Linked DNA regions of Homo sapiens. The protein of the gene in region 1 purifies or fractionates together with the protein of each later gene. This does not show direct contact. Each region holds a gene or a part of one and is shown in the gene's direction. Other genes may lie near its edges. The genes, in order: POLR3F, TRMT1L, SMARCA4, APPL2, RRP12, POLR3B and POLR3H.

What was found.
Region 2: the proteins of POLR3F (region 1) and TRMT1L purify together in Homo sapiens (affinity purification with mass spectrometry; one large-scale study listed by BioGRID and IntAct). This does not show direct contact.
Region 3: the proteins of POLR3F (region 1) and SMARCA4 fractionate together in Homo sapiens (co-fractionation; one large-scale study listed by BioGRID). This does not show direct contact.
Region 4: the proteins of POLR3F (region 1) and APPL2 purify together in Homo sapiens (affinity purification with mass spectrometry; one large-scale study listed by BioGRID and IntAct). This does not show direct contact.
Region 5: the proteins of POLR3F (region 1) and RRP12 fractionate together in Homo sapiens (co-fractionation; one large-scale study listed by BioGRID). This does not show direct contact.
Region 6: the proteins of POLR3F (region 1) and POLR3B fractionate together in Homo sapiens (co-fractionation; 4 studies listed by BioGRID and IntAct, with this or other methods). This does not show direct contact.
Region 7: the proteins of POLR3F (region 1) and POLR3H purify together in Homo sapiens (affinity purification with mass spectrometry; 4 studies listed by BioGRID and IntAct, with this or other methods). This does not show direct contact.

Annotation. Positions count from the first base shown.
Region 1 is NC_000020.11:18,476,975-18,480,983, forward strand, and holds part of POLR3F (DNA-directed RNA polymerase III subunit RPC6), read left to right. Parts: intron 1-3,063; coding exon 3,064-3,207; intron 3,208-3,427; coding exon 3,428-3,535; intron 3,536-4,009. UniProt on the Homo sapiens protein: DNA-dependent RNA polymerase catalyzes the transcription of DNA into RNA using the four ribonucleoside triphosphates as substrates.
Region 2 is NC_000001.11:185,122,161-185,126,169, reverse strand, and holds part of TRMT1L (tRNA (guanine(27)-N(2))-dimethyltransferase), read left to right. Parts: intron 1-1,059; coding exon 1,060-1,226; intron 1,227-2,250; coding exon 2,251-2,313; intron 2,314-4,009. UniProt on the Homo sapiens protein: Specifically dimethylates a single guanine residue at position 27 of tRNA(Tyr) using S-adenosyl-L-methionine as donor of the methyl groups. Dimethylation at position 27 of tRNA(Tyr) is required for efficient translation of tyrosine codons.
Region 3 is NC_000019.10:11,054,936-11,058,944, forward strand, and holds part of SMARCA4 (SWI/SNF-related matrix-associated actin-dependent regulator of chromatin subfamily A member 4), read left to right. Parts: intron 1-3,319; coding exon 3,320-3,428; intron 3,429-3,852; coding exon 3,853-3,954; intron 3,955-4,009. UniProt on the Homo sapiens protein: ATPase involved in transcriptional activation and repression of select genes by chromatin remodeling (alteration of DNA-nucleosome topology).
Region 4 is NC_000012.12:105,183,796-105,187,804, reverse strand, and holds part of APPL2 (DCC-interacting protein 13-beta), read left to right. Parts: intron 1-4,009. UniProt on the Homo sapiens protein: Multifunctional adapter protein that binds to various membrane receptors, nuclear factors and signaling proteins to regulate many processes, such as cell proliferation, immune response, endosomal trafficking and cell metabolism.
Region 5 is NC_000010.11:97,363,260-97,367,268, reverse strand, and holds part of RRP12 (RRP12-like protein), read left to right. Parts: intron 1-136; coding exon 137-228; intron 229-359; coding exon 360-527; intron 528-647; coding exon 648-823; intron 824-1,035; coding exon 1,036-1,161; intron 1,162-3,365; coding exon 3,366-3,415; intron 3,416-4,009.
Region 6 is NC_000012.12:106,433,859-106,437,867, forward strand, and holds part of POLR3B (DNA-directed RNA polymerase III subunit RPC2), read left to right. Parts: coding exon 1-14; intron 15-3,198; coding exon 3,199-3,273; intron 3,274-3,822; coding exon 3,823-3,921; intron 3,922-4,009. UniProt on the Homo sapiens protein: Catalytic core component of RNA polymerase III (Pol III), a DNA-dependent RNA polymerase which synthesizes small non-coding RNAs using the four ribonucleoside triphosphates as substrates.
Region 7 is NC_000022.11:41,527,422-41,531,430, reverse strand, and holds part of POLR3H (DNA-directed RNA polymerase III subunit RPC8), read left to right. Parts: intron 1-542; coding exon 543-744; intron 745-2,094; coding exon 2,095-2,148; 3' UTR 2,149-2,817; coding exon of another isoform or gene 2,818-2,952; 3' UTR 2,953-3,408; coding exon of another isoform or gene 3,409-3,530; 3' UTR 3,531-4,009. Other genes in the region: ACO2 (aconitate hydratase, mitochondrial precursor), read right to left, coding at 2,818-2,952, 3,409-3,530.

The DNA of each region.
Region 1 (4,009 bases):
GAGGCAGGAGAATTGCTTGAACCCAGGAGGCAGAGGTTGCAGTGAGCAAGATTGCACCATTGTACTCCAGCCTGGGCAACAAAAGCGAAACTCCATCTCAAAAAAAGAAAAAAAAAAAAAAACACACAATGAAAACAAATAATCCAACTAAAAATGAGCAAAAGATCTGAACCTCACCAAAGAAGACATACAGATGGCAGATAAGCATATGAAAAGATGCTCTACATTATTTTTCATTAGAGAACTGCAAATTAAAATAAAATTTAGTATAGTGAGATACCACTACACACCTATTAGAATAGCTAAAATCTAAAAATTGGTAATACCATATGCTGACAAGATACAGACCAAGATGAACACTCATACATTGCTAAGAATGCAAAATTTTCAGTCCTTTTGTTAAAAAACTGGGCAGTTTTTACAAAACTAAACAGAGTCTTACCACATTGTCCAAAGGTCAAGCTCTTAAGTATTTACCCAACTGATTTGAAAACTCATGTCCACATAACTACATGAATATTTATAGCAGCTTTATTCGTAATCAGCAGCTTTATTCATAATCAAAAACTGGAAGCAACCAAGGTATCCTTCAATAGGTGAATGGATAGACAAACCAGAATAGTATTCAGTTATAAAAAGAAATAAGCTATCATGAAAAGATATGAGTAAATCTTAAATGCATATTGCTAAGTAAAAGAAGCCAGTCCGAAAAGGCTACATACTGTATGATTACAACTATATGACATACTGGAAAAGGCAAAACTAGACAGACTAAAAAGATCGGGGTGAGGGCAGGGATGGTAGGGAAAGTTGAATAGGTGAAGCATGAGAAATATTTCTAGGGTGGTGAAATTATTTTGTATGACAGAAGCATTAACCAAATTTGGAAGCCCACCCAAGCTTTGCTGTCCAAAGTTTTTATTAGGGTTTCATTATACAGGCATGATTGATTGAATCCTTGGTCATGTGAGTGAATTCAATCTCCAGCTCCTCTCTTCTCCCAAGAGATTGGACTGATGTCATGTGGCCCAAAGCCCCAACCCTCTAATCATGCGGTTGGTCTTTCCAGCATGGACAACTCCTATCCTGAAACTATTTAGAGTCCTATCAGGAGTCACCTTGTTAGCATAAACCCAGGTGTGATCTAAGGGATTCACCATGAATAACAAGGCCTATTGGGAAATTCCAAAGATGTAGAAGTTATTTCCTAGGAAAAAGGGACAAAGTCTAGCCAAATTTTTTTCTTTTTTTTTTTTTTTGAGACATGGTCTGGCTCTGTCACCCAGACTGGAGTGCAGTGGCACAATCACAGCTCACTGCAGCATCAACCTCCTGGGCTCAAGCCATCCTCCCACCACAGCCTTCCAAGTAGCTGGGACTATAGGCACGTGCCACCATGCTCAGCTAATTTTTGTATTTTTGTAGAGACAGGGTTTTACTATGTTACCCAGGCCTGTCTTGAACTCCTAGACTTAAAGATCTGCCCACCTCAGCCTCCCAAAGTGCTGGGATTACAGGCATAAGCCACCATGCCTGGCCCAAATTCTTCATGTTTACAACCCAGTGAAATTTGGGTTCCTCAGTGTTGGGGTGAGTAGTTACAGACAAACAAGGAAAGTTAGAATGATCCATGTAGTAATGGATTAGACTTGAAAACATCAGTATGGACTCTTGTGTAATTTAATATAAATAATATAGATGGTTATATTTAGAAATATTGAGTATAGCTATGTATATATACAAGGGTTAATATGCGCACATAAATCTCGTGCTGCCAACTGAGAAGGCCTAGAAGTGATGACATCCCGATGGCAATGAACACATCTAGTGCCCAAGTCGTGGTTTCTATCATGCAATAAAATGAACATGTAGAAAATGCTCCTGACGGCTGGGCAGGGTGGTTCATGCCTGTAATCCCAGCACTTTGGGAGGCCAAGGAGGGTGGATCACCTGAGGTCAGGAATTAGAGACCAGCTTGGCCAACATGGTGAAACCCCATCTCTACTGAAAATACAAAAAAATTAGCTGGGCATAGTGACGGGCGCCTGTAATCCCAGCTACTCGGGAGGCTGAGACAGGAGAATCGCTTGAACCTGGGAGGTGGAGGTTGCAGTAAGCTGAGATCGTGTGCCATTGCACTCCAGCCTGGCAACAAGAGCGAAACTCCGTTTCAAAAAAAAAAAGAAAAGAAAATGCTCTTGACATCTTGTAGTGCTAGAAAGTAAGAAAGTGCTACAATAGCTGGACACGGGGGCTCATGCCTGTAATCCCAGCACTTTGGGAGGCTGAGGCGGGAGGATCACGAGGTCAAGAGATCGAGACCATCCTGGCCAACATGGTGACACCCCCGTCTCTGCTAAAAATACAAAAATTAGCTGGGCATGGTGGCACATGCCTGTAGCCCCAGCTACTCGGGAGGCTGAGGCAGGAGAATCACTTGAACCCAAGAGGCAGAGGTTGCAGTGAACCAAGATTGCACCAGTGCACGCCAGCCTGGGCGACAGTGCAAGACCCTGTCTCCAAAAGAAAAAAAAAAGTGCTAAAATACACACACACACGATGGGAGCATAGCAAAGGGATACAGGAACCAAGTGAAAAGCTTCCAATGCCCAAAGCATTCCAAAGCTTCCAGTGTGGGAATAACAATGAAGTATCTGAATGTAAATCAAAGTATAAAATAAATACTCATGAGTCCATAGTGATAGAAATACGGTGTTTGAGAAACTGTCACAACTAAAAGAAGCCTGAGAGAGATGACTAAATGTAGTATGATGTCCTGGATGGAATCCTGGAGCAGAAAAGGAACATTAGGACTAATGAAATCTGAATAAAGTATGGCATTTAGTTAGTAATGATTTATCAATATTAGTTCATTAATTGTGACAAGTGTACCACACTAATCCAAGATGTTAAAAATAGGGGAAACAGCATGATGTATATAGGAGCTCTGTGTACTATCTTTGCAATAATTTTGTACATCTTAAACTGTTCCAAAATATAGGTGTTTTTGTTTTTGGAAATTGTTATCTTATAAACACATGAACTGTGCATGTTCTTTCCTAGGCCTCAAAAAAGAAGGTGTATATGCTCTATAACCTGCAGCCAGACCGGTCTGTGACTGGTGGAGCCTGGTACAGTGACCAGGATTTTGAATCTGAATTTGTAGAGGTGCTTAACCAACAGTGTTTTAAATTCCTACAGTCCAAGGTGAGGTATGATTGAGGAAACATCACTGCAAACCCTCTTGTAAAAAGTTTTTCACAAAGGATTTTAATCTATTTATCATATTTTATAGGAATTAAAAACCTGAAATTGGGAATTTTTACTTAACTAAATATGTTCTGTTGTTGGTTTGACTCAGTATAAAGTGTATTCAGAAAACACACCAATATTCTTATTTACATTTCTTATGTTTCAATCCTTATAGGCAGAAACAGCACGAGAAAGCAAACAGAACCCAATGATACAAAGAAATAGTTCATTTGCCTCATCACATGAAGTGTGGAAATATATCTGCGAATTGGGAATCAGTAAGGTCAGAACTGAATTTCATCTTATTTTTTAAAACTTATTCTTTGTCACATACAATGTATTCCAAACATGTATTTGACCCACATTGTTTTTTTTTTTTGAGATGATAGCTACGAACATTCTGCAGAATCCACTTTGGGAAAATACTGTCCTGTATCTTAGGCAAAGGCAGTCACTGCCATTGGGCATTGTCTGAACTGATACTCAGCTTGGGACACTGATGCTTTTTTTATTTTTTTGGAGGTAGGGTCTCATTTTGTTGCCCAGGCTGGTTTTGAACTTCTGGACTCAAGTGATCCTCCTGCGTTGGCCTCCCAAAGTGCCACTGTACCCTAGCCTTTTGAAATTCTTTTTTTAAGGACACTGATGCTTTTCACAGTGAAGAAATCAAAGTGGCCATTTTGGACATGTCACTTTAATTTCCTGGGCCTCAGATTTCTCATAAAAACTAGGAACTTGGACTATTTGATGTCTAAAG
Region 2 (4,009 bases), on another chromosome or scaffold:
CCCTTGAGCCCAGGAATTCAAGTTCAGCCTGGGCAGCATAGTGAGACCCTGTCTCTTAATAAAAAGATTACATAACTAGTAAGTGGTGGAGCCAGGATTGGAATCCAGTTTATCATACTCAGAATTTCATATTTTGTCCATTATACCTGTGATTCTTAAATTAAATGGGAAGCATATCAGATTCACCCCAGACTATTTCTGAACCATACCATCACCACATATAATTCTCATATATGTGCTCCCCTGCCCTGTCCTGCCCCACCCTACCACCATAAACTCATCAGAATTAAGATTTTCTATTAGTGACTAGAATGTGCATTGTGAAAACCTCTTCATTGCTTTATTTTCCTGTCTAGATTTATAGGCTTTTATAAGGTCAACATTGTATATTATATTTTGGTATATCCTCCACACACCCTCTGTGTACCACAGTACTGTATACCTTATGAGAGTTCAATAAATTATTTTTTTATTAAGGTAACATACACATATAACATTTTCCTTCTTTACCATTTTTAAGTATACACTTCAGTGGTAATAAATACATTTATATTCTTTTACCCCTCTTCATCACCCTCTCCCTTCTCCCCTTCCCAGCCTCAATAGATTCTTGTTGACTTAATTAAGTTTCCTTGACTAATGCTACTAGTTTAGAGAACTGATATGATAAAAATGAGTGGCAAATAGAAAATAAAGTTTTAGGCCAGAAGTGTGGTGTCTCACACCTGTAATTCCAGCACTTTGGGAAGCCAAGGTAGGAGGATCCCTTGAGCCCAGTAGTTTGAGATCAGCCTGGGCAACATGATGACACCCTATCTCTATTAAAAAATAATAAAATACTATAGCCTAGGCAACAGGACGGGACTCTATCTCAAAAAAGAATAATAATAATAAAGAAAATAAACAGTTTTAAATTAAATCATAAATTCTTTTTGAATTTAAGTATTACTCTGTCATATAATTAATTATATATCTTACTTATAGTTAAATTGTGAAGACTTTCTTTTTAAAGAGAAACATTTTTCAAACCCAGTTCTCTGTATATTCTTTTCTTTTCAGGTCAAGTTCCCTTTTCAATACTGGATTCCTCAAAAGAATGCTATTTGAATCTCTTCACCATGGTTTGGATGACATTCAGACCCTAATAAAGACATTAATCTTTGAATCAGAGTGTACGCCTCAAAGTCAGTTTTCAATTCATGCATCTTCAAATGTCAACAAGCAAGGTGACTAACTGAACGCTAGCTTACTAGCTTTAAACTGCTTACCAAAAATACTGTATCTTTTTCAATTGTATTTGATGTTATAATAAAACCAATATAATTATAAATAGTGTGTTTTTAGTAAATCTTCTCTAATGAGTCTGATCCTCTGGTTTTTTTTTAATTACATAGTTTTATTCAGGCTTGTAATCAGGCCTGAGATGAATAGGTGAATGATGAATAGTGTTGTTGGTTTTGTTGTTTTTTTTTTGGATACTGGGTCTCACTTTTTCACCCAAGCTGGAATACAAGTGGCACAAACATGGCTCACTGCAGTCTCAACCTCCTAGACTCAGGCAGTCCTCTTGCCTCAGCCTCAACCTCCTGTGTAGCTGGGACCACAAGCATGCACACCACACCTGGCTAATATTTTTTAGAGATGGGGTCTCACCATATTGTCCAGGCGGATTTCAAACTCCTGGGCTCAAGCAGTCCTCCCACCTTGACCTCCCAAAGTGGCTGGGATTACAGGCATGAACCACCATGCCCTGATAATTTTTTTTTAAAGATAACCTCCTTTTTTGTGTGTTTTTAATTTTACTAGATTTAAAAAAAGAAAAAAAAAACACTAAAGGTCCTTTGTGATTTTTATTACCCTAGATGTGCTTTCTAGAAAAAGAAACTTTTGGTAATTCAAGGAGTGTTGTGGCCAAAAATTGTAATATCTATGAAGACACAGAAACTACATTTATACTTCTCATTCAGTAAAGCTATGTGTTTTTTCTGTTTAGTACAAACAGCCAATTTTGTAGTTGTATCTGACTATTGATATGAGCCTATTGAATATCCTAGTGTTCTCATAAATAATTAGAAACTGCTATTATAGAGGGTTAAAAATGTAATTTTTGCAGTTCAGTTTGGCCACAGAATCTCTTGCATATTCGTGAAAATAGTGTGGATGGAATTTCATAAACTTTTATTTAAACTGAGTTGTTGCTTTATGTCATTCTGTAAAATATTTTCTTTTCCCATTTGCTTTATTTTTTAGAAGAAAATGGTGTATTTATTAAAACTACAGATGACACCACAACAGATAATTACATTGCACAAGGTATGTATGCATATATGTGTGTACATATGTACATATCAGGTCAAAAAGGCATATAGCAAAAGGGTAGGAAGAGAAGAGATTGCCATGGTAGCCTACTTAAAAATACATTTCATATTATATGACAACAAAACTGTAGTAAAACTTGTTTATCAGCATTCACACATAGGAAATTTCTGTTAACATATGCTTTGTTCACATCTGTAATATATGGTTATCCCTTTGAACGAACTGTATGATCTTGAACCATGTGAATAAAATAAGATCAAATTATATATGATAAAGTTATATATAATTTTATAGTTAAGATAAAATTTTATTCTAATTCTTTTAAAAATTGCTCATTAATATATGATTTATAGCAATTCCATTTAAGTAACCAGAAGACCTCATTCTTCAGCCAAAAGAATTTATTATATGGCCTTTCATATAATTTAGGATATGTGCATACTTTAAATCTAGCTGTGGTAGACACTAAATTCATATTAAAGGATGTTAAGATTTAAAATATCAGTGCCCTAATGTCTAAGGTTTTGTTTTGCTTTTTAAAAAACTTTAGATTCTAGATGTGTTTTTTGAGTACAGATGAAAAGAAGACTGTAGAGTGTTAAGTTTGAAAGAGCAGTGGCCTTTAGTTATCAGCTGTAATTTTTTATTAGTTGCTCAGCAGTTTAATGTTGACCTTCAAAGACAAGGAAACTTAAATTTCTTTTAATAGTATATAGTTTAAATAACTACTGCATACTCTTTGCAACAGCCATGTTCATTTGGCATCTTCAACTAATTTGATAACTTAAATTGATACATTCTACCTAATTTCTCTGTTGGAGGGAAGACAAAGAAGCATTATGATACACTATAAAGAATATTAGATTTGCTGGGCATAGTGGCTCATGCCTATAATCCCAGCATTTTGGGAGGCCAAGTTGGGTAGATCACTTGAGGTCAGGAGTTCAAGACCAGCCTGGCCAACATGGTGAAACCCCGTCTCTACGAAAAACACAAAAATTAGCCAGGTGTGTCAGTGCAAGCCTGTAATACCAGCTACTTGAGAGGCTGAGGTGGGAGAATTGCCTGAACCCAGGAGGCAGAGGCTGCAGTTAGCCAAGATTGCACCACTGCACTCCAGCCTGGGTGACAGATCGAGACTGTCTCAAAAAAAAAAAAAAAAAAAAAATTAGATTTAAGAGTATTATCCTATGCAGGCGTTGTTATATAAACTCAGCCAGGTCCCTCCCATTCAGCAAAATTATCTTAAATCCTTTTTAGAATAAAGTAAAACATAAATAAGCTTTAAAAATATTTTCAAAAGCCAAGAGCACAGTAGCACACACCTGTAATCTCAGCTACTCAGGAGGCTGAAGTGGGAGGATAGTGTAAGGATTGTGTGAGCCTGGGCAACACAGCCAAACTCCATCTCAAAAAAAAAATTTGTTTTTAATCTGTGAGCCTTTCTCATAAGTAAATTAAGGAAATTAGACTAATTTTTGTGGGCTCTTCTATAACTTTTAAATTATATGGTTATTCTAAGACCATTGGTCAACACATAAAATCTTAAAATGATAGTACTATGCAAACCCAAAGGAAAATAATTCATTCTGTCAAAGATACGTTATATGTTCATTGCAGTGCTATTCACAGTAGCAAAGACAGAATCAACCTAGGTGCCCATCATCAATGGACTGGATAAAGAAAATGA
Region 3 (4,009 bases), on another chromosome or scaffold:
TGGTGGCGCCTATCCAGAGGACTCCGGGTTTCATTCCAAGTGCGGGGAGGCTGCAGCATGTCCCTCTTTAATATAGAGGTGAGGGAGGCTCTCAGCACCCTGCCTGTTGCAGGGAAGCCTGAGGACAGGACCTCCAGGGAACTCTGCACCAGAGCGGAATCCTCAGACCGGCAACTGGGTGGTCTTGATTCATCCAGAACGTAATTCTCCTAGAGGTCTGGGAAGGGGTGCTCTTGTACCTTGGTTTTGTGTTTTGTTTTTGTTTGTTTTTTGAGACAGAGTCTCACTCTGTCGCCCAGGCTAGAATGCAGTGGTGCGATCTCGGCTCACTGCAACCTCTGCCACCCAGGTTCAGGTGATTCTCCTGCCTCAGCCTCCCGAGTAGCTGGGATTGCAGGTGCCTGTCACCACGCCTGGCTCATTTTTGTATTTTTAGTAGAGACGGGGTATCACTATCTTGGCCAGGCTGGTCTTGAACTCCGGACTTCGTGATCCACCCACCTCAGCCTCCCAAAGTTCTGGGGTTACAGGCGTGAGCCACTGCGCCCAGCCGCACCTTGTTTTTTTTTTGCTGCCTGTAGCTGTTTCTCATTAGCCTGATGGAGGTGGCTGTTGGGGTGGTGGGGTGCTTATTATAAAGCCTTCTGCTGTCACAGCCCTGGGGTCTCACTTCCTGGGCTCTCTGCATAGGGAGCCGCCCTCCAGGGCAAGGGCCACAGTGTGCAGTAAGCCCCCCATGGCCACAGGGCAGGGCGTTTCAAGCCAAGAGTCTGCACTGTTTGCTGGCCACTAAGGGCATTGAATGGATCACAAAACTGGCTTTTTTTTCCCCCAGTCAAATAGAAATGGGGTTTTGCCATGTTGTCCAGGCTGGTCTCAAACTCCTGGGCTCAAGCAATCCTCCCACGTTGGCCTCCCAAAGTGCTGGGATTACAGGCACGAGCCACCATATCTTTAAAAATGTAATAGAATGGAAAATGGCAAAGCGCGCTGCTTTTCATAGAAGAGACTATCGCATTGGGGTTCTTCTGTTGCCCCTGCCTGTGCTGCACGTCCTGCTTCACAGTGTAAAGCGCAACTCTTGCTGTGCCTTATTGTAACAGGTATAGGGTGGATGCTGCCATCATGAAGAGAGAGGAGAGCTCTTTGCTTATAAAATTCCGTAGAGTGGAGAACAGGATGTGCCGGCTTAGGAGAGGGAAGAGGTACAGGCCCGCTCTGCCCGAGCTGCAGATGGGACACACATTTCCCGACTCAGAGGGGAGTCGTGTCTTTCTCCAGGGTCACCGAGCAGCAAGCGCATCCACTGTGTGTTCTTATTTTCTGAGCCTGTGGACTGGGTTTACCAACAGTTGCCTGTGGCAGAGCCGGCCACCAGCCCGCTCATAGGAAAAAGGAAGCCTGTGCCTCCAGGGAGGGCCCACGATGGGAATGCAGTCTGAGAAGGGTATGTGCTCCCATGCTGGACCGGCTGGTCCCACACCCAGGACCAAAAACACCTCCTGGCAGGAGATGGGGAGATGTACTTCATGAACACACGTTGGGGAAGGACACTCCTGGAAGGCAGAGGCTCAAGGCGGGCTGTGTCCAGGCCAGGAGATTCACTCCCACCTCAATTTCCTCCTCAGCACGGCTGGCCTGGCACTGGTGCCTGCTTCAGAGTTTAGTGTGTGTAAAGTGTGGCTGGCCCAGCAAGCAGGGGATGATGGCGGTTGTCAAGGCCAGGGGAGGTGCAGGGACAGGATTCTGGCTCCCGTGTGTAACGTCTGCATCTCAGGAGGCTCTCATGTTAGAAGCTGGGTCAGGGGCTTCGTGATGCACACAAACACCAAACAAGCAGGAGGCCTTCCGGGATCCTGCTCACGAGCAGCTTCCTGGAGGCAAGCCTGGCCCGTCTGCCCCTTGGTGACATCAGGACCCCAGCAACAGAACCAGGGAAGCCACCATGTTGTCGCTGCCATTTTCCAGCGTGGTAAACAGAAGCAAGACAAGGCGCACTCAGGACACCCAAACAGACGGCGGGGCCAGCCAGTGGCATGGGCGGGCTGCCCTGCCCTCTGGAATTTTCTGGGAAAGAACATAAGGAAAGAAGCGGTGCTGATGAGGCAGCTGGAGTTATCAGGACCCAAGCTCAGCTCCTCCTTCCCATCAGGCCCCGTTGGCCACTTTTAGGCTTCGTCCGCCTGGTGGCTCCCTGCTTGGGGCCGTTCCCTGGCTAGGCCCTTCCTCTGGGCCAAAGCAGAGAGGAGAGCGCGTTTGCCATGCGTTCTCATTTTCCCAGCCTGCGGGCTGGGTTCTGTCAGAGCAAGGTCAGCTCTCAGAGCTTCTGTCCCCACCCACCCTGTCCTGCTGAGCCAGGCTCAGGTATGGGTAAGAGCTGGGAGCGCTGTGCACGAGGCCTGGCAGCATCTCATCACTGCCGCTGTACCGAGTGCACAAGGGCGCTTCCTGTGGTGTTCAGGGGGTTAGATCAGTCCCCAGTGAGGACAGAGCAGAGATCCAGATGCATCCCAGGCCGGCTGCAGTGGCTTCTGCCTCTAATCCCAGCACTTCGGGAGGCCAAGGCAGGCAGATCACGAGGTCAAGAGATCGAGACCATCCTGACCAACATGGTGAAACCCTGTCTCTACTAAAAATACAAAAATTAGCCGGGTGTGGTGGCTGGCATCTGTAATCCCAGCTACTCGGGAGGCTGAGGCAGGAGAATTGCTTGAGCCCAGGAGGCAGAGGTTGCAGTGAGCCGAGATCATTCCATTGCGCTCCAGTCTGGCGACAGAACAAGACTCTGTCTCAAAAAAAACAAAAAACAAAAAAATGTATCACAGGCCTGTTTGTGTGGTTGTCTCTGGGAAATGTTCCAGAAGCTACAAGAAAGCACATGTGCAGGCCAGGCATGGTGGCTCACACCTGTAATCCCAGCACTTTGGGATGCTGAGGCGGGCTGATCACCTGAGGTCGGGAGTTTGAGACCAGTCTGACCAACATGGAGAAACCCTGTCTCTACTAAAAATACAAAATTAGCCTGGCATGGTGGTGCACGACTGTAAAAAATCCCAGTGACTCCAAAGGCTGAGGCAGGAGAATCTCCTGAACCTGGGAGGTGGAGGTTGCAGTGAGCCGAGATCGCACCATTGCACTCCAGCCTGGGCAGCAAGAGCGAAACTCCGTCTCAAAAAAAAAAAAAGCGCATGTGCAAGAAATAGCTCCTGAGCTGAGTTGGAATTTCTCATCCTTAAACAATGTGGGAACCTGCTGAGGTGGGGTGGGGGCTCCCGGGTGGGCGGACTCGGGGGTGATAGCCGCCGGTTCTGCCTTGCAGCAGCAGTGGACGTCAGCTCAGCGAGGTCTTCATCCAGCTGCCCTCGCGAAAGGAGCTGCCCGAGTACTACGAGCTCATCCGCAAGCCCGTGGACTTCAAGAAGATAAAGGTAACCCTGACGTTGTACCTGCGCCCCGCATGTGCCCGGAGGGGAGTCTGACCCAGGGGCACCCCCATCTGAGAGCTGTGGTGTGTGGGCAGAATGACCAGAAACCACCTAGGCGGTGCCTTGGGCTACCTGGTTAGGGACCTGGTCGTGGGCTTTTGGGGTTCCTTGTAAGGGTTGGGGGTGTCCTGAGGGATGTCAGTGGGCAGTCGGTGTTGGGTGTTCCTTCAAGGTCCCACTCACTTAGTGCTGGGCCTCAGTCATGCAGTTCCCATGCCTAGTGAGCCAGGTTACCGAGGCTGGCGCTTCGGCCACATCCTCATAGGCACGAGGAATCCTAGCCCGTGGGGTCTCCAGCACACAGCCAGGCCTGCGGGCAGGCGAGGCGGGGTCCTGAGGTAAGACCTGCTCCTCCCGTCCACTGCAGGAGCGCATTCGCAACCACAAGTACCGCAGCCTCAACGACCTAGAGAAGGACGTCATGCTCCTGTGCCAGAACGCACAGACCTTCAACCTGGAGGGCTCCCTGGTGAGGGCACCGCTGGGGGTTGGGGATGGGCCACTCCCACAGCTGGGCTTTGACC
Region 4 (4,009 bases), on another chromosome or scaffold:
GGGTGTATGATACTGTAGCCACAGGTAGCATCTGCAGCAAAACTAGCCTGAACTGAGATGTGTTTTCAGTGTTAAATACATACCAAATTTCTAAGATTTAGGATGTAAAACATCTCACTAATTTTTTAGGTTAATCACATGTCTGGTAATATTTTAGATATACTGGATTAAGTAAAATTAATTTTATCTGTTACTTTTCACTTAATGTGGCCGCTGGAAAAACTTCGATGACATATAAGGCTTCCATTACATTTCTAAGGGACAGCACTGCTTTAGAGCCAGAATGTCTCAGTTTATTCCTGGCTTCGGCATTTCTTAGTTATGTGACCTTAAGCAAATTTTTGAGCCTCTGTACCTCAGTTTTTTCAGCTGTAAAATGAAAGTAACTATTCACACCCTCCACTGTTGTCATGAGGAATAAATGTCATGAGGAATAAATGTGCTAATATATGTAAGACATTTACAACTCACTGGCACATGAAAAGTGCTCAATGAACGTTAGCTTCAAAAAAGGTAACTAGGACTATAGCAAAAATTAGGATATAGCTTCTTCCATTCATTAAGCCCATCCTTTTCATTTATTATGAACCTTATCTGAGAATTAAGTTCTTATTAATAAAACCTGTTCTTTCACTATGTCCTGGACCTTTTACAGAAATGGGCTCATGGTTCTTATAATCCTATTGGTCCTGGAATAATTTCCACCAAAAAGATCAAAGGAAAATATATGTAAAAGTACTGTGAAAAACCACAGCACATCAAAGTGAAAAGAAAAACTACAGAATGGGAAAAAAGTATTCACAAATTCTATCTAATATGGATGTAGTACACAAAATATACAAAGAACTCTTATAAAACTCAACAGAAAGACAACCCAATTAAAAAATGGACCAAGGACTTGAAATAGACATTTTTCCAAAGATCATATACAAATGGCCAATGAGGACATGAAAAGATGCTATGTGTTACTAGGGAAATGCAAAACAAATCCACAATGAGATATGTCACTCCATATTAAGATGGCGTGCGCACGCATGCACACTGTCTCACAGATGTTTATATATATATGATATATATGATATATATATGATATGATATATGATATGATATATGATATATATATGATATATCATATATATGATATATATGATATCGATATCATATATATGATATATATGATATATATATGATATATATATTTAATGGAAAATAAGCGTTTAGCAAGGATGTGAAGAAACTGGAACCCATTGCTGGTGGGAATATAAAATGGTTCAGCTGCTGTGAAAAAATAGTTTGGCGGGCTCCTGGGTAGTTACCCAAAAGAATTAAATACAGGTGTTCAAACAAAAACTTATACGCAAATGTTCATAGCAGTCCTTTTCGTGATATCCAAATGGTGGAAATAATACAAATGCCCAACATCAAATGAATGGATCAACAAAATGTGGTAGAGTTGAGCATTCCAAATCTGGAAATCTCAAATGCTCCAAAATCTGAAACTTTTTGAGTGCCAACTTGATGCTCAAAAGAGATGCTCATTGGAGCATTTTGGATTTTGGGATGCTCATCCTGGTAAATATAATGCAAGTATTCTAAAATCTGAAAAAAAAGCTGAAATCCAAAACAATTTCAGATACAGGATACTCAACCTGTATATATATATGATGGAATACTATTTGGCCTTAAAAAGGAACAAAGGACTGATAAGTGCTACAACATGGATGAATGATGAAATCATTGTGCTAAGTGAAAGAAGCCAGGTACAAAAGGCAACATACTGTAGGGTTCTGTTTATATGAAATATCCAGAGTAGGCAAATCCATAGAGACAGAAGACAGACTAGAGATTGCCAGAGGGTGGGAGGAGGAATGAGTAACTGCTTAATGGGGATGGAGTTTCCTCTGGGATGATAAAAATGTCCTGGGACTAGATAGTGGTAATGGCTGCACAAAGTTATGAAGACACTTAACATCACTAATGATAAATCTGACGTTATGCATACGTCACCACAGTAAACATACCCCTGCAGTGGAATAGGTTCTGAGACCATTTAGAGGTCACACAGAAAATTAGAAGATTTAAAAAGAAAAATTGATTCCCAGACAAGGTGCCTGAATAGGAACAGCTCCAGTCTGCAGCTCCCAGTGAGACCAACACAGAAGGCAGGTGATTTCTGCATTTCCAACTGCGGTACCCAGCTTATCTCACTGGGACTGGTTAGACAGTGGGTACAGCCTATGGAGGGCAAGCAGAAGTAGCGTGCGGCATTGCATTACCCAGGAAGCACAAGGGGTCGGGGAACTCCCTCCCCTAGCCAAGGGAAGCCGTGAGTGAGGGACAGACCTATCCAGCCCAGATACTAGGCTTTTGCCACTGTCTTTGCAGCCCGCAGACCAGGAGATTCCATCGAGTGCCTACACCACCAGGGCCCTAAGTTTCAAGGACAAAACTGGGCGGCCATTTGGGCAGACACTGAGCTAGCTGCAGGAGAATTTTTTTCGCACCCCAGTGGCGTCTGAACCTCAGCGAGTCCCAACTGTTCACTCCCCTGGAAAGGGGGCTGAAGCCAGGGAGCCAAGTGGTCTTGCTCAGTGGATCCCATCACCACGGAGCCCAACACACTGAGATCCACTGGCTTGAAATTCTCACTGGCAGCACAGCAGTCTGAAGTTGACCAGGGATGCTCGAGCTTGGTGGGGGGGAGGGGCATCCGCCATTACTGAGGCTTGAGTAGGTGGTTTTCCCCTTAGAGTGTAAAGAAAGCCATCAGGAAGATCATACTGGGCTGAGCCTGCCGCAGCGCCATAAAACTGCTGTAGCCAGACTGCCTCTCTAGATTCCTCCTCTCTGGGCAGGGCATCTCTGAAAGAAAGGTAGCAGCCCCCAGTCAGGGGCTTACAGATCAAACTCCCATCTCCCTGGGACAGAGCACCTGGGGGAAGGGGTGGCTGTGGGCGCAGTTTCAGCAGACTTAAATGTTCCTGCCTGCCAGCTCTCAAGAGAGCAGCAGGTCTCCCAGCACAACGCTTGAGCTCTGCTAAGGGACAGACTGCCTCCTCAAGTGAGTCCCTGACTCTGGTGGTTCCTGACGGGGAGACACCTCCCAGCAGGAATCGACAGACACCTCATACAGGAGAGTTCCAGCTGGCATCTGGTGGGTGCCCTTCTGGGATGAAGCTTCCAGAGGAAGGAGCAGGCAGCAGTCTTTGCTATTCTGCAGCCTCCACTGGTGATACCCAGGCAAAGAGAGTCCGGAGTGTACCTTCAGCAAACTGCAGCAGACCTGCAGAAGAGGGGCCTGAAGGAAAACTAACAAACAGAAAGCTATAGCATCAACATCAACAAAAAGGATGACTACACAAAAACCCCACCCAAAGGTCACCAGCATCAAAGACCAAAGGTAGATAAATCCACAAAGATGAGGAAAAAGCAGCACAGAAAGGCTGAAAATTCCAAAAACCAGAATGCCTCTCCTCCTCCAAAGGATCACAACTCATTGCCAGCAAGGGAACAAAATTGGACGGAGAATGAGTTTGAAGAATTTACAGAAAGAGGCTTCAGAAGGTGAGTAATAACAAACTCCTCCAAGCTAAAGGAGCATGTTCTAACCCAATGCGAGGAAGCTAAGAATCTGGATAAAAGGTTATAGGAACTGCTAACTGGAATAACCAGTTTAGAGAAGAACATAAATAACCTGATGGAGATGAAAAACACAGCACGAGAACTTCGTGAAGCATACACAAGTATCAATAGTCAAATCGATCAAGTGGAAGAAAGGATACCAGAGATTGAAGATTAACTTAATGAAATAAAGTGTGAAGACAAGATTAGAGAAAAAAGAATGAAAATGAGTGAATAAAGCCTCTAAGAAATATGGGACTATGTGAAAAGACCAAACCTATATTTGATTGGTGTACCTGAAAGTGACAGGGAGAATGGAACCAAGTTAGAAAACACTCTTCAGGATATTATCCAGGAGAACTTCCACAACCTAGCAAGACAAGCCAAC
Region 5 (4,009 bases), on another chromosome or scaffold:
GTGGGCCAGGAGCAGGGCCGCGCTAACCCTCCCCTCAGCTGGGCTTGATCATGCTGCGTCCCTGGGCTGGACAGCAGTAAAGGGGGCGCAGCATGGAAGGCTCGCCTCCCTGAAAGCCTGGTGCTCTGTCCGGCAGATGGAAGCCATTGGGAAGCTTTCAGATGACATGCGGCGGCACTTCCGCATGAAGCTTCGGAACCTGTTCACCAAGTTCATCCGCAAGTTTGGGTCTGTGCACTGAGCAGGGGCGGGGGTAGGGCAAGCGAGGGGCCGAGGATTTCCAGTCCTACCAGGGACACTACATCTGGGTCGTGCTGTCTGGCCAGTGCCTCTCACCAGCCCTTCCTTGCCACCTCCAGATTTGAGCTGGTGAAAAGGCTGTTGCCCGAGGAGTACCACAGAGTCCTGGTCAACATCCGGAAAGCTGAGGCCCGGGCCAAGAGGCACCGAGCCCTGAGCCAGGCTGCCGTGGAGGAGGAAGAAGAGGAGGAGGAGGAGGAGGAGCCCGCCCAGGGCAAAGGTGACAGGTGAGACCATGTTAGGGCCATGGGACCCGGTGTCCCCCCAACCCAAGGGCCTGCCCAGGCAATACCCGCTGACCCCCGCCTCTCCTGGGAGCACTCTGACTGGGGGCTTTTTGTCCTTAGCATTGAGGAGATTTTAGCTGACTCAGAGGACGAGGAGGACAATGAGGAGGAGGAAAGAAGCCGAGGCAAGGAGCAGCGGAAGCTGGCACGACAGAGGAGCCGGGCATGGCTGAAAGAGGGCGGTGGGGACGAGCCCCTCAACTTCCTGGATCCCAAGGTGGCCCAACGAGTCCTGGGTAAGCACAGGGCTGGCCAGTGCACTCAGAAAACAGACTTGCCATGGTGCCAGGTTCTCAGGTGGTGGGTAGGGGGTGGCATCCATGGCAGGCCCATGGACAGGGCTGAGAGGCGCCCGTTTGGGATCCCTGAGCCGGGCTTGTTGGTCATGATGAGGGTGAGTAGCATGGGACTGGCCTTCCACCTCCTCATGCCAAACTCTACACCCCAGCCACGCAGCCAGGGCCAGGCCGGGGCAGGAAGAAGGACCACGGCTTCAAGGTGAGCGCCGATGGCCGGCTGATCATAAGGGAGGAGGCAGACGGCAACAAGATGGAGGAAGAGGAAGGTGCCAAAGGTGGGCCCAACGCGCTTGTCCATTCATTCACCGTGTTCACTTATTCCTTCGGTGATCACTTGCTGAGGAAGCGTGGCTAAAAACAGACCAGAGAAACTCTTCTCTCGGCAGCTTCCTCAAACTTTTTGAGTTTCTCAAACTTTTTTTGAGAAACATTAAGAAATCTTTTTATGTTGTAACCGAGCCATTTATACAATACATATTTAACTTAAAGGAAACTATCGGAAATGGTACTTCCCCTTACTGTGTGTGATACGCTGTTAGTCTCTTCTGTTTTTCTCCTCCTCCTCCCCCTCCTCTTCCTTTCTCCTTTTCTTCCTTCCTCTTTTTTTTTTTTTTTTAATGCAAACTTGGCTAAGGCCCTGAAGATGATTTAGAGGCAGAAAGAGCCAGAGGCTGAAACCCTCCCAACTTCCCAATCCCAATGTCTCACATTGCCCGGGAGTCCCTCCGGTGTGGCATCTCGGAGCTCTCTTTAGTCTTTCCTGGCCCCTCTCCACATATCCAGCCATTAGCTAAGAAACACTTAGGTCTTCGCCAGGCGTGGTGGCTCACGCCTGTAATCCTAGCACTTTGGGAGGCCAAGGCGCGCAGATCAGGAGGTCAGGAGATCAAGACCATTCTGGCTAACACGGTTAAAACCCATCTCTACTGAAAACACAAAAAATTAGCTGGGCGTGGTCGCGGGCGCCTGTAGTCCCAGCTACTCGGGAGGCTGAGGCAGGAGAATGGCGTGGACCCAGGAGGCAGAGCTTGCAGTGAGCCAAGATTGTGCCACTGCTCTCCAGCCTGGGTGACAGAGCGAAACTCTGTCTCAAAAAAAAAAAAAAAAAAACACCTAGGTCTTCAAGAACACACCTGTCATCCCTTTGTTTGGTTCCCAGTGCTGCGAGCTCTGGGCCCTTGTCTCACTGCACCTCCTAACTGGAGCCTCACTGCTCCACATGCACCCAACTCACCAGCCACACGACTGCAGCCGCTCGGTCAGCCTCTCCTTAGCTCCGTTTCCTTGCTTCAGAGTGGATATCATACAATCCTAATACCCACTTTTCCGGGTTGGAATGAAGATGAATCGGTGTAATGGGGACAGCGTATGTACTTGGTGTACATGTGCCTGTTATATTTCCGTGTCTAGTGTCTTCTCTGCTCCTCTCTCGCCCCTGTATACTTTCCCATCTCCTGTCCCCCTTGGTGCCCAGGCATTCCTGAGGCTGTCAGGACCCCTCCCCTCTCTCTCTGCCTTTCCAAACCCCCCTGCTCTTCAGGATTCAGCTCAAAGCTCCTTTTGTAGCCCTTCCTGGGCACCTCAGCCTTTAGGCCTGATTCCCCCAGAACTCCTGCCAAGCCCAGAGGAAACCCAGTCTTCAGCCCTTGGTCATGTGCTTTCTTTGGAGATAGAGTCTCGCTCTGTCACTCAGGCTGGAGTGCAGTGGCTCGATCTCGACTCACTGCAGTCTCCATGTCCTGAGTTTATGTGATTCTCCTGCCTCAGTCTCCCAAGTATCGGGGACTACAGGCGTGCGCCACCATGCCCAGCTAATTTTTGTATTTTTAGTAGTGATGGGGTTTTGCCATGTTGCAGACTGGTCTTGAACTCCTGACCTCAGGTGATCCTCCCTCCTCGGCCTCCCAGAGTGCTGGGATTACAGGTGTGAGCCACCACACATGGCCGGTCACGTGCTCTCTATCGTCTTTTGGTTGTTGATTGACTTTGCCTGAGTTTCTCTTCCCTCCAATTGGTCAGTTTCATACTTTATATTCCCACATGGAGCCCAGCACATACTGCATGGGGCAGAGATTTCAAACAGGAGAATGAAGCCTTCCTGGCACAGTGGGGGTGTGTATGGGGCTGCAGGAGCGCCTGACTCCCCCGGAAACCTGGGGCTTTCTTCAAATCTCAAACAGATGAAGGGTGGGTGAGTGGGAAAAGAAAAGTTTCAAACGAAGCCATATTCACCTCAAAAGTAGGATCACCGCTTCTTTGAGGGGCCGTTATCCCTAGGGCCTAGGGTGGGAAGGAGAAAGGGGCAGTGCTCAGGGGTCTCATCTCTTCTAGCAGAAGGATGATATTGGTCTGAGGAAGGCAATTTTCTGGGGCCGGAGTTGGTGGCCCCGCAGCCTGGTGAGCCAGGAGGGGGCAGAAGGAAAGGGTAGGTTTTGAGGAGCTCCCACAGCGCTCATGGGCCTCTCTTTTTTGGCTCCAGGCGAAGATGAAGAGATGGCTGACCCAATGGAAGATGTGATCATCAGGAATGTGAGTAGTTCCTGCAGATGGGGGGCTAGGGCTTCAGACCTAAGCCTGGGCTCCACAGCTTCTCACCCCCACCACACGTAGACATTGGAACTGCCCTGTTTCTGGAATGCTCGGTGCATCCTCACAGGTGTGCATAGCAGGCGGTCCAGAAGGTTGTGGGTGCCAGGCAGGACAGGGTGATGGTTGTCTAGTTAAAGGAGAAAGAAGGCAGAGACCCTTGTCTCTCTAGCGAGGGCATGTGCTATGCAGGGGCAAGGGCAGCAGCTTCCCTGTGTGCTCCTGCATGGGGTGGGGGCATCCACCGTAGGGGAGCATGGCTGTGTGCCCAGCACTGTGCTGAGGGCCCCACATAGCCTCACGAAGATAGGGACTCCGTTGTCCCAGTGACCAGAGGAGCGTACAGAGGTAAGTAGCCTGCCCAGGGTCACAGGACTCAGTCTGTGCAAACCAGGAATTTGAACCCTGGTTTTCCAGTCTCCTAAGCCCAGGAATTCAACCTCTTTGCCACCATTACCCCTGTTGACCTGGCAGTGCTGCCTGCCAGGATGGAAACAGCCTCTCAGCTGCCCCACCTGAACCAACAAGGGTGAAGTG
Region 6 (4,009 bases), on another chromosome or scaffold:
GGAAGGCTATGCAGGTATATATGCAGGTTACTAAAAAGAGTTTTTAAGAATCTCTTTATATTTGCTCTTGAAAGAAATAGACTTGTTTTTATTTTTGAAACTGTTTTAACCTCTTTCATTGTGAAGATAAATTTAATTCCGTGAGCAAACACTTCATGAATATGCATATTAGGTACCGAGGATTCAGATTAATGGGAGACAGAGTCTGCCCTCAGAGAGCTCAGTCTGCCGGGAAAGGCAGAAAAAATGACTAATAACAATCAACTGTGGTAGTGGTTAATGCTAGCCACCATTTGTCATTTTAATGGAGACACTATATGTGTAAGGCTTTAACTTCTTCATTCAACCCTATGAGGTTGGATTATTCTTGTCATTTAAGAAATGAGGAAACTGAGGTTCAGTGAGGCTAAGTAACTTACTGAAAGCTAAAGAGTGGTGGAATCTGTTTTTTATTTGAAAGTCCTTAGGATTCGTTTGACGCATGATTTTGCCCACTATAGTCTGTTGCTACAAACTGAGCTTTAAAGGAGGAGTAGGATTGTGTTAACTTGGAGGTAGGTGGGGAGGAGAAAGGCTGAAAAAAGGCAAGAATGAAAACATGGAGGCATGAAGAAATAAAATAACACTAGATCCAATGGAAAAGTAGGTTCCTTTTATTCATTCAGTAAGTATTTATTAAGGGCCTATTGTGCACAGGTACTATCTAGGAGCCGGAGGTACAGAGACGAATGTGACATGGTGTCTGGTTTGAGGGGCTATGCAGAGACATCAGCTGAGGACATTGCCTTGTGTCACAAGCCTTTTCTAGCATTACCGTAGTTATTCTGTGTATACCTCGGGTAGTGTTGAAGCACAAGGCAGTGAGCCAGCAGTAGCTGGAAGTCTGTCAGAGCTGGGAGAGTGACTGCATGCTTTCTTTCCTCCAGCATCCTTTCCTCCTTCATATGACACTACCTCATTTTCTTTTGAGGACTGCCTGTCCCCATTGGCAGGCTTCTTGGGATGGTCAGTCCAGCACCCTCTTCTCTTCAGCCAGGGGTTGGGCATATGACCCAAATGAGGTCAGTCAGACCCCCTCATCAGAGAATTTGAATCCCAGGTAAAATAAATCAAGGGAGGGAGGTGGTTGGACTTGATTCATTCTCCCAGTGCTACATGCAAGAGACTGCCTGTTAAACCTCATTTTCTGGATTCTTGGAACTGCTCTCGTTCCTTTTCTTTCTGAGGCTGAGCATTTCACCTTTTTCTTTGATTCTTATCCTTCCATTAAATTATTTTTTTTTTTTTGAGACAGAGTCTCACTTTGTCACCCAGGCTGCAGTGCAGTGGTACGATCTTGAGTCACTGCAGCCTCCGCCTCCCAGGTTCAAGCGATTCTCATGTCTCAGCTCCCCACCCCCGTCCCTGACCCAGTAGCTGGGATTACAGGCACACACCACTGCCCCTGGCTAATTTTTTGTATTATTAGTAGTGATGGGGTTTCACTGTGTTGGCCAGGCTGGTCTCGAACTCCTGGCCTCAAGTGATCCACCCACCTCAGCCTCCCAAAGTGCTGGGATTACAGGTGTGAGCCATCGCACCCAGCACCTGTAAATTCTTAATGCTTCCAGTAAACTTCATTTTTGCTTAAATTAGCCAGAATTGGTTTCTCTTCTTTGCAACCGAAGAATGGTTAGCTGATGATATACCTGTGTTTGAATCCTAACTTCCCACTTACTGAGTTGTGTGACTCTGAGTATACTACTTCAGTCTCTCAGCCTTGGTTTCCTTGGCTGTAAAATGGAAACAATAATGCCTGCCTAAGATTGTCCTGAGAACTAGTTGATAGAAGGTGTGGTAAGTGCTCAGTAGGGTGCCAGGCACACATTAGGTGCTTATTTATAACTTAATAGCATGGTCCAGTTAAGGGCAGGAATAACAGTGACATTTTCTAGGTTACTCTTTTTTAGGATTTCATTACATCCAACATAATATATATTCAAAAATAAAACTCTTTTATAGAAGCAACTTTATAATGGCATAACAGATCTAGCAGGAAAAAATAGTAGAATGCGTTGAGTAACGTAAGGATAACTGAGGCAGCTAAATGTGATCCCCTCCCTCTCCTCCGCCGGTTTCTGTCTTCTCATCTGAGGCTTAACCTGAATCCACTGCAGCGCTCAAATGAGGCATTAGTAGGCTCTGCTTCCCTACCAAGAAGGAGCCAGAATTTCGAGGTACTGTGGATTTCCATGAAAAGCTCACCCAGTTCATTTTTCAACAACTTGTGTTCCCCTTTTGTAATTGTGCAGCTCCTCTTCTTAACTGTTGAAAAGTGCTCATTAGTCCTCAAATAGTTATTTGGACTTTAGGGTAGAGCGCACAAGTGTCTGGTGGTTACTTGCTCCTCTCTGTAAGAGCTGCTTATCCAAATAGCAACAGCCCTTGACGTTTCAGTGCCGCATGCCATCCTTTGTGTCCGGGTTTCCTCATGGTGGCAAAGCCCTCCGAGGCAAGTCCCCACTGACAGTTACAGGTTAATCTGCCAGAATGCCTTCTCCACCTTCCACCCATTACGTCACTGAAAACCACAAAGTAAGAAAGCTTCATTCTCTGCCAACTTTTAGCCACTCTCTTTGGTAATGTGTAGCTTTAAGTATCTTGCTAACCTAGCTCAGTGATGTTTAGACTAAATCAAACTACTCTAAACATCTGGATATTCATCAGAACCTCACAACACAACGCCGTTATTACCCTAGGTGACAGTGCTTCTTTGCCTGTTAACTCCATGAGTAGTATGCAAAATTTTCCAATGTGAAATCGGGAAGTTTTTAGATTGATACATTACACCGTTTTTTAAAATATGGCATTAAAGGTTTTGTTTCCTTTTCAGACTTTGAGTATCATTTTTGTGTTGCCTTTTCATTCAAAACCAAATGTTTCCTAAGATACTTGCAGGAAGCACTGTGTGTGTGCATGAATATGTCCACACATACTCACATGTACACATGGGCTTGGGTATGTATGTGTGTGTATGTGAGAGAGAGCATAGTCCCCTACACCATGCTCATCCATACAAAAATTACCTGGTGTCCTCAGCAATCCAGGAATAGGTTTGTTTGTATTTACATCTTCCCTCATCTCACTTTGGTAAACTAACTTGCCTGTGTAATTTTTCCCTGGAACTATTATTAATTTGGTTTGCTGTTTCCATTCTAGACCCTACATAATTGTCAAGAAACAGAAGCCAGCAGTCACAAATAAACATATGGAAGAGCTGGCCCAAGGGTACAGGTAAGTAGCCAAAAGTAAAACTTACCAATCTCCTTAATACCCACATACATGATTTAAGAAAAGTGTATTTTCATTTTAGTGTTTTAATTTCTTTCCACCAAATTACCAGCCTGTTAAAAACCTATTTTGCTCCATGTGAACTTGCTTGGACATTGTAAAATATTCATCAATTTAGATCATGAGGGTTACCTAGTCTTGATGTCAGTTAGTACACAAGTAAGTGTTTCTGGTAAGAAAAGGACTTACATCATGTGTCAGTGTAGACACTGTGGGTCTCATTATGAGGTTTCTAAGGTCAGAATTTTTTTTTTAAGAAGTGGGGACTAGGTTCACAAGAGTTACAGACAGACACTTTGCTGTTTTTATTTCAGCAGTTTGTGGTTACTGTGTGAGCTAAGAATAACATGTTTCAGGTATCCCAATGTAATGATATTCTCTGGGAGAGAAAGGTGCTTTGGGCCTAAACGAAAGCCAGTATCTCCTGTTATTATATAAAATACTGCAGAAAAATGCTTTTTAATGATGTCTCTTTCACCAATATTTTCCCAGGAATTTTGAAGATTTCTTACATGAGAGTCTGGTTGAATATTTAGATGTGAATGAAGAAAATGATTGTAACATTGCACTGTACGAACACACAATTAATAAGTAAGTAGGATCCATAGCAACCATAATTAAAACGTGTTCTGACTATAGAAACTACCTTCTCTTTTACTGTCATCTTCAGTCCTTCTAT
Region 7 (4,009 bases), on another chromosome or scaffold:
CCTGGCTGGGTGGCAGCACGGCTCTGGGTCTGCATGTGACTCCAGGATGTGTTAGAAAACCTGGCGCAGCCCGGCTGGTTCTCTCACCACCTGTCATCCAAGTGGGCAGGTGACCTCCCATCCCACTATGTCCTCTTGAAAACGGCAAGTCCTTGGGTGCCCATCAGCCTGTCACAAGGCTTTGATGAAAAGGGTGTGTGGGGCTCCGTGGCAGGAGGCCCAGGTTGCTCTTGTCTTGAGAGGTGGGACTCGGACCCTGTCTCGTCCCCTCCTGCTCTGGTGCTCTGAGATCCATGTGCGTCTGGCCGTGGTGCCTGGCTGGGGACCCCATGTTCCCCTTCCTGGGTCCTGGCCTCCAAGAGCGCTTGTTCCTCTCTGTTTGGCCCAGGCCTTGTGCATGGGGCTGGGACCTGCTTTTCCTGTGACTTCCCAGCCACAGTGATCTCACCCTGAGATTGGTTTTTCCTGCGGGGTCGGGGAGTGGGTGCTGAGGGAAGCCCCTCCCACTATCTGGTTGCTGCCTTGACCCTGGACCCCCTCAGCGACGAAGCGGAGCAGGTGTGGGTGTGGGAGTACGAGACGGAGGAAGGAGCACACGACCTCTACATGGACACCGGCGAGGAGATCCGCTTCCGGGTGGTGGACGAGAGCTTTGTTGACACGTCCCCCACAGGGCCCAGCTCAGCAGATGCCACCACTTCCAGTGAGGAGCTGCCAAAGAAGGAGGCTCCGTACACGCTTGTGGTGAGTGGCTCTGATGGTGCTGAAGCCCCCATGAGGCGGGAGAGCCGGAGTGCAGGGCTGGAAGCTGTGTCCTGGGGCTTCTGCTCTGGGATCTCCCCCAGCAGGTCAGGGATCCTGTTTGGGGGGTCTTGGCTGGTCACTTCTCCCTGGAGAGCCTGAGTTTCTGTAGGCCAGGGCTGTGAGGCAGTAAAGGTACATGGCTGCTGGTGGGGTGGGCGAGTCAGCTTGCAAAGGGGACAGAGCTCACGGTGGACAAGACCACTGATAAAGCGGCTTTGAGGCCAAGTGCAGTGGCTCACATCTATAATCCCAGCACTTTGGGAGGCCAAAGTGGGAGGATCGTGTGAGGCCAGGAGTTTGAGACCAGCCTGGCTAAAAAAGTGAGAAGTTGTCTCTATAAAAAACAATTAGCAGGGCATGGTGGCGTGCCCTGTGGTCCCAGCTACTTGGGAGGCTGAGATGGGAGTATCCCTTAAGCCCAGGAGTTCAAGGTTGTGCCACTGCATTACAGCTTGGGCAACACAATGAAATGCTATCTTTAAAAAATTGGGGGGTAGGGAGGGGTTTGAGGGAGAAAGAAATCAAGGAAGGGGCTTGGGAGAGATCAAAGCCCTGAGATTAAGGGTAGGGCTGCTGGGGCACAGTGGCTCACGCCTGTAATCCCAGCACTTTGGGAGGCCAAGGTGGGCGGATCACGAGGTCAGGAGATTGAGACCATCCTGGCTAACACGGTGAAACCCCATCTCTACTAAAAATACAAAAAATTAGCCGGGTGTGGTGGCGGGCGCCTGTAGTCCCAGCTACTTGGGAGGCTGAGGCAGGAGAATGGTGTGAACCCGGGAGGTGGAGGTTGCAGTGAGCCAAGATCGTGCCACTCCACTCCAGCCCGGGTGACAGTGCGAGACTGTCTCAAAAAAAAAAAACAACAAAAAAAAGGTAGGGCTCCCTGTAGGAGCAGCATTGCAGCAGTGAAATAAAAGGGAGGGCTCCGGGGAAGAGTGGCTTTCAAGGCTGCTCCCTGTTGGATGCGTCTGGAGCATGGGCCTTGTGTTTGCTCAGCCTTCCTGCCACGATTAGAACCTAGGTGGCCCTGGAGGGCAGGCCTAAGGGTGAGGAAGGGTCCCTGACCCTATCAGGGCCTGGAGTCCCTGGAGAAGGGTCTGCGCCCTGCGTGCTGCGTGCCCGTTGGGAGCACTGCTGTGGCTCCCACATCTCTCCAGAGCCTCTTGGCTGCCGTGTGCCCCGCCTCTTCTTTGCCTGTGCTGGGCCTGCTGGGCTCCCTTCACCTCCTGTCCAGGTTGGTTCAAGCCAGCATGTCAGTGAAATGTGCGTGTTCTTTATCCCTGGCAGGGATCCATCAGTGAGCCAGGCCTGGGCCTTCTCTCCTGGTGGACCAGCAACTAGCCCTGGGGCTGGACAGTGGACCCTACCAGCCTGCGGGAAGGTGGTATGGCCGGCTGTGAAGACAACAGCAGCTGAGGCCGATGCTAAGGAGATAGTGTCTCGAGCTGGACAGTGAGGCAAGGCCAGGAGTGCCCACCAGCTTGCCCCGCTCCTCCACCATCTAGGCCCTGCTCCTCCTTCACTGCAGTGATGGATCCATCTGTGGCTGTGGCTGTTGGGCCTCCACTGACCTTGACTGAAAAGACCCTTCCTGGACCCTGGACTTGACAACAAACGGCACAGACACCAATCACTCACAGAACAGTCACTGGTTTTGGATTCTTGTTTTCCTTGCAAGAACAAAAGGTTCTCTAGAATCCTTCAGCCACCAATGAAATGATCAGGCAGGAGAAAAACTTTAGATGGGAGTCTTGTCATCAAAAATAAATACAGTTGCATGGAGCTGCTTAAGATCTGAACCAAACTCAAAATAGGAAGACGGGGGCTAAAAAGTTATTTTAAGAACCCCCCCACCACAACCACAGTCACTCCGTGGGCTAAGCGGGGAGCAGGAAGCATGTCTGGTCACACCATCTTGGAATAGGAAGCCATGGCTGGACGGATCGGATCCACTGATGGCACACGTGGAGCTGAACTTGACGCCAGCGGCGGGGCGGGGAGGCACTGCCCTCACTGTTGCAGTTCCTTCATTCTGTTGAGGGCACTGCCAGCGCGGAACCACTCAATCTGCGTCTCGTTGAAGGTGTGGTTCAGGAGGATGGTCTCCTGGGTCCCGTTGGGGTGCTTGATGATGCACTTCAGGGGCTGCAAGGAGAAGGTGGGTGTGGGTGGAAGTGGTGGGTACTGTGTGCCCTTGGCCCCGCAGGGGGGTCAGGGAGACAGGGCACTGCCTGGGGACCTAAGAGGTCAGCAGGCAAACCAAATCCTAGGCCAGTCTGTGCCTGATGGCCCAGGTCAGACCCAGGTGGCACCTACAGGGGATTCCTGGGGCCCAGAGGGTCCTGCAGTGGGTGGGCTGTCCCCTGAGTGCCAGGTCCTGGTGAGTAAAGGGAGGTTGGGGAGGTGTGAGGGCCCCGGGTTGACTCCAACCCCCAACTCTGAGAAGCCACTTTGCTTTCTCTGTGGGGCCACCTGGAGAACTGGGGGCCTTTCCAGCTGGAATGAAGCCTCCTGGGAGAAGCTACCCTGGGGCCAGTGCAGGAGGGGAAACAAGGTGGCTGCCCCTCACCCCACCACCTCAGGGGGACCCGGGCCCCTAACCTTGCCAGGGGTGAAGTCCTTCAGGCCCTGAATGGTCAGCTTGTCCACAGGGTGAATCTTGTTGTAGTCAGCCGGGTCAGCGAAGGTCAGAGGCAGCAGGCCCTGTTTCTTCAGGTTGGTCTCTGGAAAGCAGGCGGCATTCGGTCATCGGGGGCCTGACTAGCCTGGAGAGCTTCATTTTCTGAACCCATCTGGGGCTCTGGGAGATGCCCCTAATCCTGCTGCCTGGGACAATGCCCGGGCAGTGACTATGGGGCCCTGGTCTGCTCCCTTTCACTAGGGGTGCCCCTAGCAAGTGTGCGCTGGTGCTGAGGTCTGCGAGGCCTTCCTGCTGCACATTCATGATCAGAAAGAACCCCCTGGCACATGTCCTAGATCTCAGCGGCTCAGATCTACAAGCCTGGAAGCAGGGCCTGCGGGAAGCCGGGAAGCTGAGCGTCGGATGTGCACTGTGTGAGCCTAAGAAGGGGCAAGAGGCTGACGGGCCTGTGGGCTGCAGTGGACACAGCCTAGAACCAGGCCCAACTCAGCCACGGGCAGGGAGAGTGACCTTGATCACTAGGGATGGGATGAGGATGGCCTGGGTACAGACTCCAGCTCA